Regions from separate parts of the Homo sapiens genome. Here region 2 is linked to region 1. Evidence: fine-mapped expression QTL. A gene starts in region 1. The other region holds a variant in brackets. All regions are shown on one strand. Distances are between the middles of the regions. Region 1 holds the start of PGM2 (phosphoglucomutase 2). Region 2 has its middle 7.8 kb from the start of TBC1D1.

Region 1 (5,383 bases):
CACATTAGTTTCATATGAGACTTTTAAGTTATGAATTCAGGAAAACAACAGAGGAAGGACTTTATATTCCTGTTTTACAGTCATTATCCATTTAGATGAGCACTCACGCAGGACGTGGCCATTTAATTAAACTTTGAAATACTACTGCAATAAAACCTTGGCTTTCTGGAATTAAGCCCACATTTCCAGATTGTGGCAGATTCAATGGGAATCAAGTAAACCCCATCTTTTTTGGTGAAAAACAGCAGATGCTAATTACAGAACACAGTCTTACCTATCAGATTGTCAGGTGCCCCAAAGAAAGGCTCAGATCAGGTACATAAAAGAGGCTCATAAAAGAGCCTCAATAAATATTAGTGGAGTGAATCAGAAAACATGGACTTCACTGCCACACTCAATATCGAGTGATCCTCCCTTGTTCATAGTGTAGGTCTGGAAAATCTTAATTGGTCTTTGATATCTATGAAAGACTAAGTAGCCTGAGAGAAACAAAGGAGACAGACAGGTAAGAATGACAAGTCAAGAGTACAGCAGGATCAGAATCAGCCCTGGCAGTGAGCAAAACTGACAGCAGAGAAAAGAGCAGGGATGAAGGCACGGTGGAAAGACAGAGGGCACCTGCCAGGGCGCCTTGCCAGTCGCCGGGGGTAGTCTGACTAGAGGGCTGCAATGCTTTTAGCTGGTGGGAGGTTCACTGGAGAATGAATGGGCTTCTTCTCAGGTGCCAGTCTCAAAGCAAAGAAGAAATTAACAGAGGATAGAACATGAGAAGTGATTAAAAAAAAAAAAGGACATCTCATCTCTACCCAGAGAAATACAATTTTTCTATACACAGATGCAACACTGTGTAGAAATTAGATTGTTTTCTTCTTCTTCTTAGAGAAAGTGCATTATGAACTCTGACTTCAAAAGAATTCTGTACTCTGCAAGCTACAAGTTATCAGAAATGGAAACATTTTTCTTCCCTTGTGAATCACAAGGTTATCTTCCCAGGAAAAGAAAAACGCCCCCAAGGAGTTGCCAATAGCATCCTGGAAATGGGATTTGCTGACATTTTATTTGTAGGGGCCAGAGAATGGTAAATAAAGACAAAGACCTGACCCCTACTGACCTTGTAATCTTCTTTGTTCATTCAAGTATTTCAGTGACCTACTATGTGTCATGCACTATGCCTATGCCAGGCACTACAAACCAAGGTAGTGAGAATAGAGAGGCCTGGCCACATAATTTATGGAGGTCCAGTGCACAATGAAAGTGGGTGACCTCTTGTTTTACCAGTAAGACTTTCAAGACAGGACAGCAGGACATTAAAACAACAGTGGGCCCTTCAAGGAGCGCGAGTCCTGTGAGACTGCAGGGGTCTCTCGCCCCTGAAGTCGGCCCTGGAGACAGACATTAAACAAACCTACAAACAAGTGTTTTTGGAGTTTTTTGTTTTTACCATTTGTAGTAAGAGCTATAAAGGAAAATAACAGACTGTTTAGAGTGAATATTAGGGATAAATAATTTAACGCTTCGGAGCCAAGGAAGGACTGACTCTCTACGTAAGCCACATTTAAGTTCAGGCACAAAATATGAGTCACAACGGGAGAAACAAGTTCAGCAGGAGAGCAGCGAGGGACATTCCGAGAAAACCTAACAGCAAGCAGAACAGGTCGAAAGGGCGAGACGCAAGTTTATAGAGAGGAGAGGGAGTGATGTCCAGAGCTGGGTTCCTGATTCTAAGAAACGGAATGAAGAGAGAGAAAACCGTGCTGTGTCCCAGGTGTGCCTCCCTGGCAGTCAAAGTTCTAAGGGGGACTCCTGAAGCCAGGCGGGCCCACCCGGGAGGACAACCCACGTTTGTAACCAAGCCCTCGGGATGGGAGGACCGGACCAGAACGCTGCTCTGCAAAGGTCTCAGCGGCCAAAGGAATACGCGGGACGGAGCGATTCTGGGTCCATGGGGATGCACAGCCGACTACCGACGACGAGCCAGCGGTCTGAGTGACAGTAAGGCGTGCGCCCCTCAACTAGACAGCGTCCAGGGTCTGGCCGCGCTTACACCACCCTGGCTCGCTCCTCTACTCCGAACTTGCAGTCCGGCCGGCCGGATGGCTGGTTTCGTCCGGGGACAAGCCTTCCCGGCCTAACTCTGAACGTGCCGCATGCCGGCCAGGTCGAAGGAAGCCTAGCAGCGGCCGTACGCTCCTGGGTCTTCCCGGGGGAGAAGCGGGATGCACTGGGCGGGAAGGCAGCTCAGGCAGAGCAAGCAGCGCCGCGCCTGGAGAGGGCAGAGCACCCGGCCCCGCTCCAGGCGCTCCCCGCCTGCTGGTGCCCCTCACCTTGTCCCAGCGCAGCCACTGGGCGGTCTCCTGGTCCAGCCGGGCGTCCTCGCCTAGACCGCTGCCTTCTGGAGCCGCCATCGCTGAGCTTGTGCTACCGCTGCAGAGGGAAGCAGGCGGTGAGATCTGCCTTCCGGCCCGGCCCCAAGACGTGGAGGCGGAGGCGGGGGCGGGGAGAGCCGCGGCGGAGCCAGTCGGTCCGGGGGAAAGTGACGCGCGCCGCGGCGGGCACGCCTCCTTGCCGTTTGCGGGTGCGCTGCAGGGGGTGGGAGTGAGCGAGGAGGAATTGCGGGGCTAGGGTGGGTTGCTGGAACCTGGCACGTGTGAGAAGGGTTTGCCATCGTCTCTGATGCATCCAGGCTACAGCCAGCCGTGAGTTCCTGCTGCGCGCCAGGCACATGTCAGATGCTGGGATACCAGGAAGTGCACCCAGATAGGGGCCTGAAGACTATGTAGAAACTCAGAGGGTCAAGAACAGCCAGAAAAAAATCTTGAAAAAGAAAAGCAAAGTAGGAAGACCAGTGGAACATAAGATAGAGACCAGAAACAAAAATACACGTGTATGGACAATTTATTTCAGAGGCGGGGCTGCAGAGCACAGGAAGGAACTATTTTTGGTTAATGGTGCTCGGTCAAAGGGATATCCACGTAGGGAAAAGAAAAAAGGGAACTTGGCCCCCTACCTCCCATCACACACAGCTCTGAACTCCAGATCAATTGTATCTCTAAGTGCGAAAGGTAGTGTAGCAGGAGGAGCCGCAGACAAAACTCCTCAGACACCGGATTAAAGAAGGAAGAGGTTTTTATTCGGCCGGGAGCGTCGGCAGACTCGCGTCTTAAGAGCCGAGCTCCCTGAAAAAGAAATTCCTAGCCATTTTAAGGGCTTACAACGCTAAGGGGTCTGTCTACGTGAAAGGGTCATGATAGATCAAGTAAGCGTGAGGAACGTGACTGGGGGCTACATACATCAGCTAACAGAACAAGAAGTTTTACAGTGCTTTCTCATACGATGTCTGGAATTTACGGATAACGCCAGTAGTTTTGGTCAGGGGTTAATATTATTATTATTATTTTAACCACCAGGGCCAGGTGGTGGCGCCAAGGTCGTCTAGCTATTTATCTTACTTCTGTTTTTTTCCAACTTTTTGCTTTCTCTCTTTTCTCCTGTCTTATAAACTAGGGAAAAGGGGAGGTGGGGGAGAAGCTGGGAAGGACAGCAGAAATGGTGGTCTCTTTCCATAGTAGCGTGAAACTTAGGGAAACTAACATAGGAGCACATCTTCCTGACGCTGGTATCACCAAGCCATAAAGAAGATGCATACCCATAAGCATAAAAAAGCACGGGCAAGAATATTTCTAGCAGCATTATTTGTAAAAGCCTCAAACTGGAAACAACCCAGATGACCATCGACAATACAATGGATAAATACTTGGTAGTATATCCATACCAATTCATATAAATAAATCATGGCACATTGATAGAGCAATGCAGGTGAACTACTGTTATACACAACATCATGAATGAATCTCACAAACACTGAGTGACAGAGTTCAAACACCCACCCCCATACCCCGTCACCCCAAAATACTGCATCATTCATCTGTAGTCCCAGCTATTTCGTGGTGGGGGAGCTGGAGGGAGTCCTGAGGAGGGAGGATCGCTTGAGCCTGGGAGGTCGAGGCTGCAGTGAGCCCTGATTGTGCCACTGTTCTCCAGCCTGGGAGACAGAGGGAGACCCTGAAAAAAAAAAAAAAAAAAACACTGAAATATATAAAATTATAGGTAAAGGAAACAAATCAGTGATTTTCAAGAGCTGGGGGTTGGGGGAGGGGTTGACTACCTAGGGCACAAGGGAATTTGAGGGAGTTGTGGAACTGTTCCGTATCTTGATTGAGTTTGGGGTTTACTTTTATCAAAACTTATAGAACTGTACGATATAAAGGGTAAAATTCACTGTATGTAAGTTATATCTCTTTTTTTTAAGTTTTAAGATTAAAAACTAAAAAGGAGGCAAAACTAACCTATGGATGTCAGCAGAGTGGTAGCTTTGGGAAGGAGGGAAAGTGCCTTCTGGGGTTCCGGGACTGTTCTGTTTCTTGACCTGGACGATGGTCAACAGGTGTGTTGACTTTGTAATATTCACTAAGCTGCAATCTTATGAGTTGTGCATTTTCCGTATGTTCTTCAACTTTATTTTATTATTATTTTTTGAGACACAGTGTCGCTCTGTCACCCAGGCTGGAGTGCAGTGGTGTGATCTCGGCTCACTGTAACCTCTGCCTCCTGGGTTCAAGAGATTCTCATGCCTCAGCCTCCTGAGTAGCTGGGATTACAGGGGCGTGCCACCATGCCCGGCTTATTTATTTATTTATTTATTTGAGACACAGTCTTGCTCTGTCACCCAGGCTGGAGTGCAATGGTGGGATCTCAGCTCACTGCAACCTCCATCTCCTGGGTTCAAGTGATTATCCTGCCTCAGCCTCCTGAGTAGCTGGGATTATATGTGTGAGCCACCAGGCCCAGACTTTTTTTTTTTTTTTTTGTATTTTTAGTAGAGAACGGATTTCGCCATGTTGGCCAGGCTGGTCATGAACTCCTGACCTCAAGTGATCTGCCCACTTCAGCCTCCCAAAGTGTTGGGATTACAGGGATGAGCCACCGCGCCCGGCTAGTGTGTTCTTCAATTTTAAAAAGAAAAAATATATATCCAGGATCTGTAATATCTGTTTAGTGTCATGGGAAAGGCATACTAATCATGTAATCACGGCAGTTAATACGTAATTACAAACTGATAAAATGCTGGAAGGAAAGCAGAGAGATGTCATGAGGCTGCAGGTTAACAGAGGCCACCTCAGTCAGGAAGCTTGCCTGAGCACTGGAAGCTTAAGAGAGATGTGAGGGAAGGATGTAGTTAATGTGAGAGTGTGGTCCTTCCCCTGACTGCAAAACCTGAGAGGCTGGAGCACAGAGAAGAAGAGAAGGACAGTCTGCCTCAGTTTCCCCAAATGTTAGGTGGTCTGCAGGTCCACCACACTCAGGCTATCTCTTTTCTCTGCAC
Region 2 (5,383 bases), 57 kb before region 1:
CCCTGAAATTGCTTTCCGAAAGGCATAAGATTAATAAAATATGATGCAAAAAATTAAAATGAGCAGATAGCCAACATAGATTTTAGAATTTCAGCAATTGAAATAAACAAAAATTTTACTGCACGAAGAACTCACGCTTACAATGCAAGAGACAACGGTAAATCAATGCAGTGAGAGAATGGGTGGACTGTATACTTAAGCCCCAGAGTAGGCTTCTGTGAAGTATCTAATCTCCTTTTATGGACAAAGCAGATAAAACTCTGGGCACTGGTTCCACTTCCTTTTCCAGCAACCTCTCCTATTTGTCATTGCTCTACACAAGCAACTGCTCCACGCAGCTCTCTGACGATGTCCAGCCTTTACTTGGGGTTCTCACTTTCCACCCGAGCTGGTTCCGTGGGTCTGGGCACCAAGTACAAAGTTTGGCAAATGTTAGATGGCACGTCATTTTTAAATTATGATATCTAAATTTGTCTAAGGTCAATGAGAATTTTTTTGTAAATTGTCAGAGCTAGTTATGGATGTCGATGATTTTACTCAGACTGGGTAAGCTGACTAAGCTCTCTACCCTGCAGCAACCCCACTTCATTTTACCCCAAATGCCATTGGTGGTACCTAATGTGTAATCTCACCTAGAATGCAGGAGCTGCTAACTGGTTTCCCTGATTCGGCCCTCACCACCCTGCAGTCTATTCTTAACATAGCAGCCACTTGAATCTGCTAAAATATCATTTGGGCCATGTCACTGCTTGGCTTGGAATCCTCCCATGGCTTTCCAGATTCCCTGGAGTAAAAGTCAAAGTCCTTATAATGGTTTAGAGGGTCCTACAGGATCTTCTTTCTCAACTGCCACACCACTACCTCTGTCCTTTATCACCTGCTACCAGCCTTGACTCACTCTGCTCCAGCCACACTGGCCTTGCAGTTATGCAGAGCTGCCAGGCACACTCCTGCCCCAGGGCCTTTGCATTTACTCTTCCCTTTGCTAAGTGTACTCTTCCCTCAGATATTCACATTGGCCCCTCACTTACTTCACTTTGTTTAAATGTCACCTTCTCCATGAGGCCTTGCTGACCAAGTTTTTGAAAATGGAAACCACAGCTACGCCTACACACACACACACACACACACACACACACACACACACACCTTATCCCTTTTCCTGCTTTATATTTCTCCATAGCATTTACCTTCTAATGTACTATATTGGTTACTTGTATATCTTATTTGTCATTTGTTTCCCCCTCCGCCTTCCATGGGAGCAGAGAATTTTGTCTGTTTTATTTGCTGCTGTATCTTCAACTCACAGCATGGAGCCCAACACATAGTAGGCATCCAATGAATATGTGCTGAGTGAATGAATGAATGAAAAAAATAATTTGTAATATATAACATTTTTGAGTTCAATACATGTCTTTATATAGAAAGAGAGGAAAACCTAGAAATTCTAATCTAATAGAAGTACTATCTATTAGATTAGAATTTCTAGGTTTTCCTCTTGCTTAGAAATTCTAATCTAATAGAAATACTATTAGATTAGAAGTACTATCTATAGAAGTACTATCTATTAGATTAGAATAGAATCTAATAGAAGTACTATTAGATTAGAATAGAATCTAATAGAAGCGCTATCTATTAGATTAGAATTTCTATGTTTTCCTCTTGCCTAGAAATTCCAATCTAATAGAAATACTATCTATTAGATTAGAAGTACTATCTATAGAAGTACTATCTATTAGATTAGAATAGAATCTAATAGAAGTACTATCTATTAGATTAGAATAGAATCTAATAGAAGTACTATCTATTAGATTAGAATAGAATCTAATAGAAGTACTATCTATTAGATTAGAATAGAATCTAATAGAAGTACTATCTATTAGATTAGAATAGAATCTAATAGAAGTACTATCTATTAGATTAGAATAGAATCTAATAGAAGTACTATCTATTAGATTAGAATAGAATCTAATAGAAGTACTATCTATTAGATTAGAATAGAATCTAATAGAAGTACTATCTATTAGATTAGAATAGAATCTAATAGAAGTACTATCTATTAGATTAGAATAGAATCTAATAGAAGTACTATCTATTAGATTAGAATAGAATCTAATAGAAGTACTATCTATTAGATTAGAATTTCTATGTTTTCCTCTTGCCTAGAAATTCCAATCTAATAGAAATACTATCTATTAGATTAGAAGTACTATCTATAGAAGTACTATCCATTAGATTAGAATTTCTAGGTTTTCCTCTTGTTGACAGCTCATTAGATTTCTCAACTGTCCTAAGAGGTATGTCAATAGTTCCCCCCAAGGTGAGCTAAATGTTGAAGCATGTGACTCCTTCTTTAACCATCAACATAGACTCTAATTTCAGATATACTATAGAAGGACTTTAGAATCAGGAACAACTGAGAACTCATCAGCAGTCAAAGTTTGTTAGAAGTTTGGTTGAGAAAAATATGACCTTGGAGACCAGCATGAAAGATAATGCAGTTCAACTGGTCCTCTAAAATCTGGATCCCCTAAAATCAGTTCCTTATCAGATCAACCCAAGTGAAGATCCATTTGCCTGGAGTGTATCCAGAAAA[T/A]TTTTTTTTACTGAGTTTCACTTTGATATTATTCCATTGGTCCATAGTGGGGGAATGCATTTTATAAAAATACTCTATTCAGTCTGAAGATATTATTGAGGGTGTTTATTAATACCTTACACAGTGTCCTTTTAAAGAGAATCCAAGAAAAAGTTTCTCCTAGGACTCCACTAAGAAAAACTTTTCTTTCCTTGAGCAACTGATTTTATCTCCATCCTTGCACTGACCGTTTGGGGTTCACTGCTTGGCAGGCATCCAGGACATTTTGTGTGCTAAGTCAGTGATTCACAAATGCCCTTTCCAAGCCATTGCCAGTTTGTGCCACTTTTCATCTATCCAAGACAAACTATAAATAACAATGTGTAACTTCATAAAAGCAAACTGAACTTCTCTGTCTTCTGAGATCATGTTCTTCCTACCTTATAGGTACTAACAAATAAGTATTTCTTTTATGAAATTACGGTGAGAACCATATGGTGAGATCCATTGCTTTGTGCTTGTTTTATAATGTCTTTACTTGGCAAAAGAACATTATAGCGCCCCCTTGTCAATTCCTAGTGTTTGGAGAAATGTTACTGGTTCAGAAAATCCAAAGTCTAGGAGCAGTGGTTTCTACCTAATTCCTAGCATCATTCTATCTCACCTACTACCCTCTCCTTTCGTCCTGTTTTCTTAATTCACTTTGAATCATTTTTTGTTTACAAAAAAAGTGAATACATTTAAGCCATCTTCAATCATTCCTGGGATGTGGTAGAAATATGAGTGAGTGAGTGAATGAATGAATGAATAAACAGACTTGTACAGGCAGAGAACATACCAACTCGCCTGCAGCTCCACACTACATCAAATGTTCTCACTCATTACCACCTTGTATGCTACCTGTATAGTGTGTACAGTGTGTTGTAATTTACAGATCTCATATTATTTAACCCTCTCAGCAGCCCTCAGAGGTAAACGTTATTTCTCTCCCTCATTATAGAGAGTTGGAGTTGTCCTAAGGCAGAAAACCTGTGGGGGAGAAATTGGGGTTTTAACCTGGATATTCTGTCAGCAAGCCTAATTCTTTTTGTCTATACCATATTACTGCCTTTCAAACTAATGTTTTTGAGGGTGATCATGTTTGGAGGTGTTTTGATTTGTGTGGGGGAAATGAGAGTCTGGTTATTTCCTTGGCTTTCAGAATAACATTCCTTATTGCGAGGTGTTCCTGGTTGGGCTGCGCTTCAGCTGGGGCTCTCTGACCCTTTAACTTCTCGGGAGCATCCACAGAACCAAGGTTTCCTTGATCAGCACACATTGAAGAAACGTGCTCCGGGGCAGTCTCTTTTTGCTCACTTTTCTATTGCATAATAATTCATATTGTGCCACAGCATTATAGTGGGAGGTTGCTTCATTACTTTGTAATTTCTTTTAACATTAAAGCTGAGCTAGAGACATTCAGCCTTCTCATTTTCTTGTTGGTAAATATGAAATGTAGGATGAAGTTCTCCTTTACTCAAAAGAGTGTGGGTCCTTGGATAGGAAGCTTAGAGAAATCATTAAGGGGGAGGTAGAATTTACCAAGATTTCCAAAGTGGCAGGTAGTTACCGCAAAGGGGTTAGTAGTCTTTCAACCAGTAGAGATGCATAGATGAGCTATTCTTTCCATGGCTCTGAACTAGGCACTGAAGTGATGCAAAGAAATATGAGACAGCTTCCTTGTCTTCAGCATCCTTACTCTCTTCTAATTCAGGGTTGACAAACTACTAAAAGCCCATTTAGTAAATATTTTAGGCATTGCAGGACATTCCATCTCTGTCCCACCTTTCAAATCTGTAGCAGTGGCCGGGAACAGTGGCTCACACCTGTAATCCCAGCACTTTGGGAGGCCACGGTGGGCGGATCACGAGGTCAGGAGTTTGAGACCAGCCTGGCCAATATGGCGAAACCCCGTGTCTACTAAAAATACAAAAATTAGCCGGGCATGGTGGCGCATGCCTGTAGTCCCAGCTACTCAAGAGGCTGAGGCAGAAGAATTGCTTGAATCCGGGAGGCAGAGGTTGCAGTGAGCCGAGATTGCGCCACTGCACTCCAGCCTGGGCGACAGGGTGAGACTCCGTCTCAAGAAAAAAAAAAAAAAAAAAAGTCTGTTGCAGTGCAAAAGCAGCCACAAACGCTATGCAGACAAATGAGTATGGCTGTGTTCTAGTGAGTATGGACGCTGAAATTTGGATTTCATGCATTTTCACATTGTCACGAAATATTCTTTAAAAAAATTTTTCCAACCATTTAAAAATGTAAAATCCATTCTTAGCTCATGGGTCATACAAAAACAAGTAGCCGGATTTGGCGAGCAGGACATAATTTGCTAACCCTGCTCTAGGGCAAAGGTTTTTAACTATTTTTATAGTATAGATCCCTTTGCCTGTGTAATGAAGCCTATGGAACCTTCCTCAGAATAATATTTGTAAATGCCTAAAATAAAATAAATAAAATACATTAATAATGAAGTTCATATGTTATGATATCATGCTTTTAAAAATATATGTTGATATCTGTATTTCCATGTAATTGGCTACAAATTATATGGAAGGCTGGGTACAGACATTCAGCCTTCTTCTCATTCTTTTGTTGCTAAATATAAAATGTAGGATGACATTCTCCTTTAAGAGAAGTTCTCCTTTAAGTAACCAATTATATAGCCAATTATATAAAATTCTCCTTTAAGTAACCAATTATATGGAAATACAGACATCAACATATACTTTTAAAAGCATAATATTGTAATATATGGACATCATTATTAAT

What was found. PIP is the estimated chance that this variant, and not a neighbour inherited with it, causes the effect.
Region 2: its variant is the best candidate, but not a certain one, in a credible set for the expression of PGM2 in whole blood (TOPMed, PIP 0.86).

Annotation. Positions count from the first base shown.
Region 1 is chr4:37,823,755-37,829,137 of GRCh38, reverse strand. PGM2 (phosphoglucomutase 2) reads right to left here and starts at 2,452. Exons shown (of 14, transcript NM_018290.4): 1 at 2,325-2,452. The coding sequence starts at 2,405. RefSeq lists enhancers at 1,780-2,279, 2,280-2,781, 3,814-3,983 and a silencer at 2,270-2,569.
Region 2 is chr4:37,880,599-37,885,981 of GRCh38, reverse strand. No RefSeq gene overlaps it. Among named protein-coding and RNA genes, the nearest start is that of TBC1D1, 7.8 kb to the left of the region's middle. RefSeq lists an enhancer at 4,194-4,694. The variant T/A (reference allele first, on the strand shown) is at 2,597.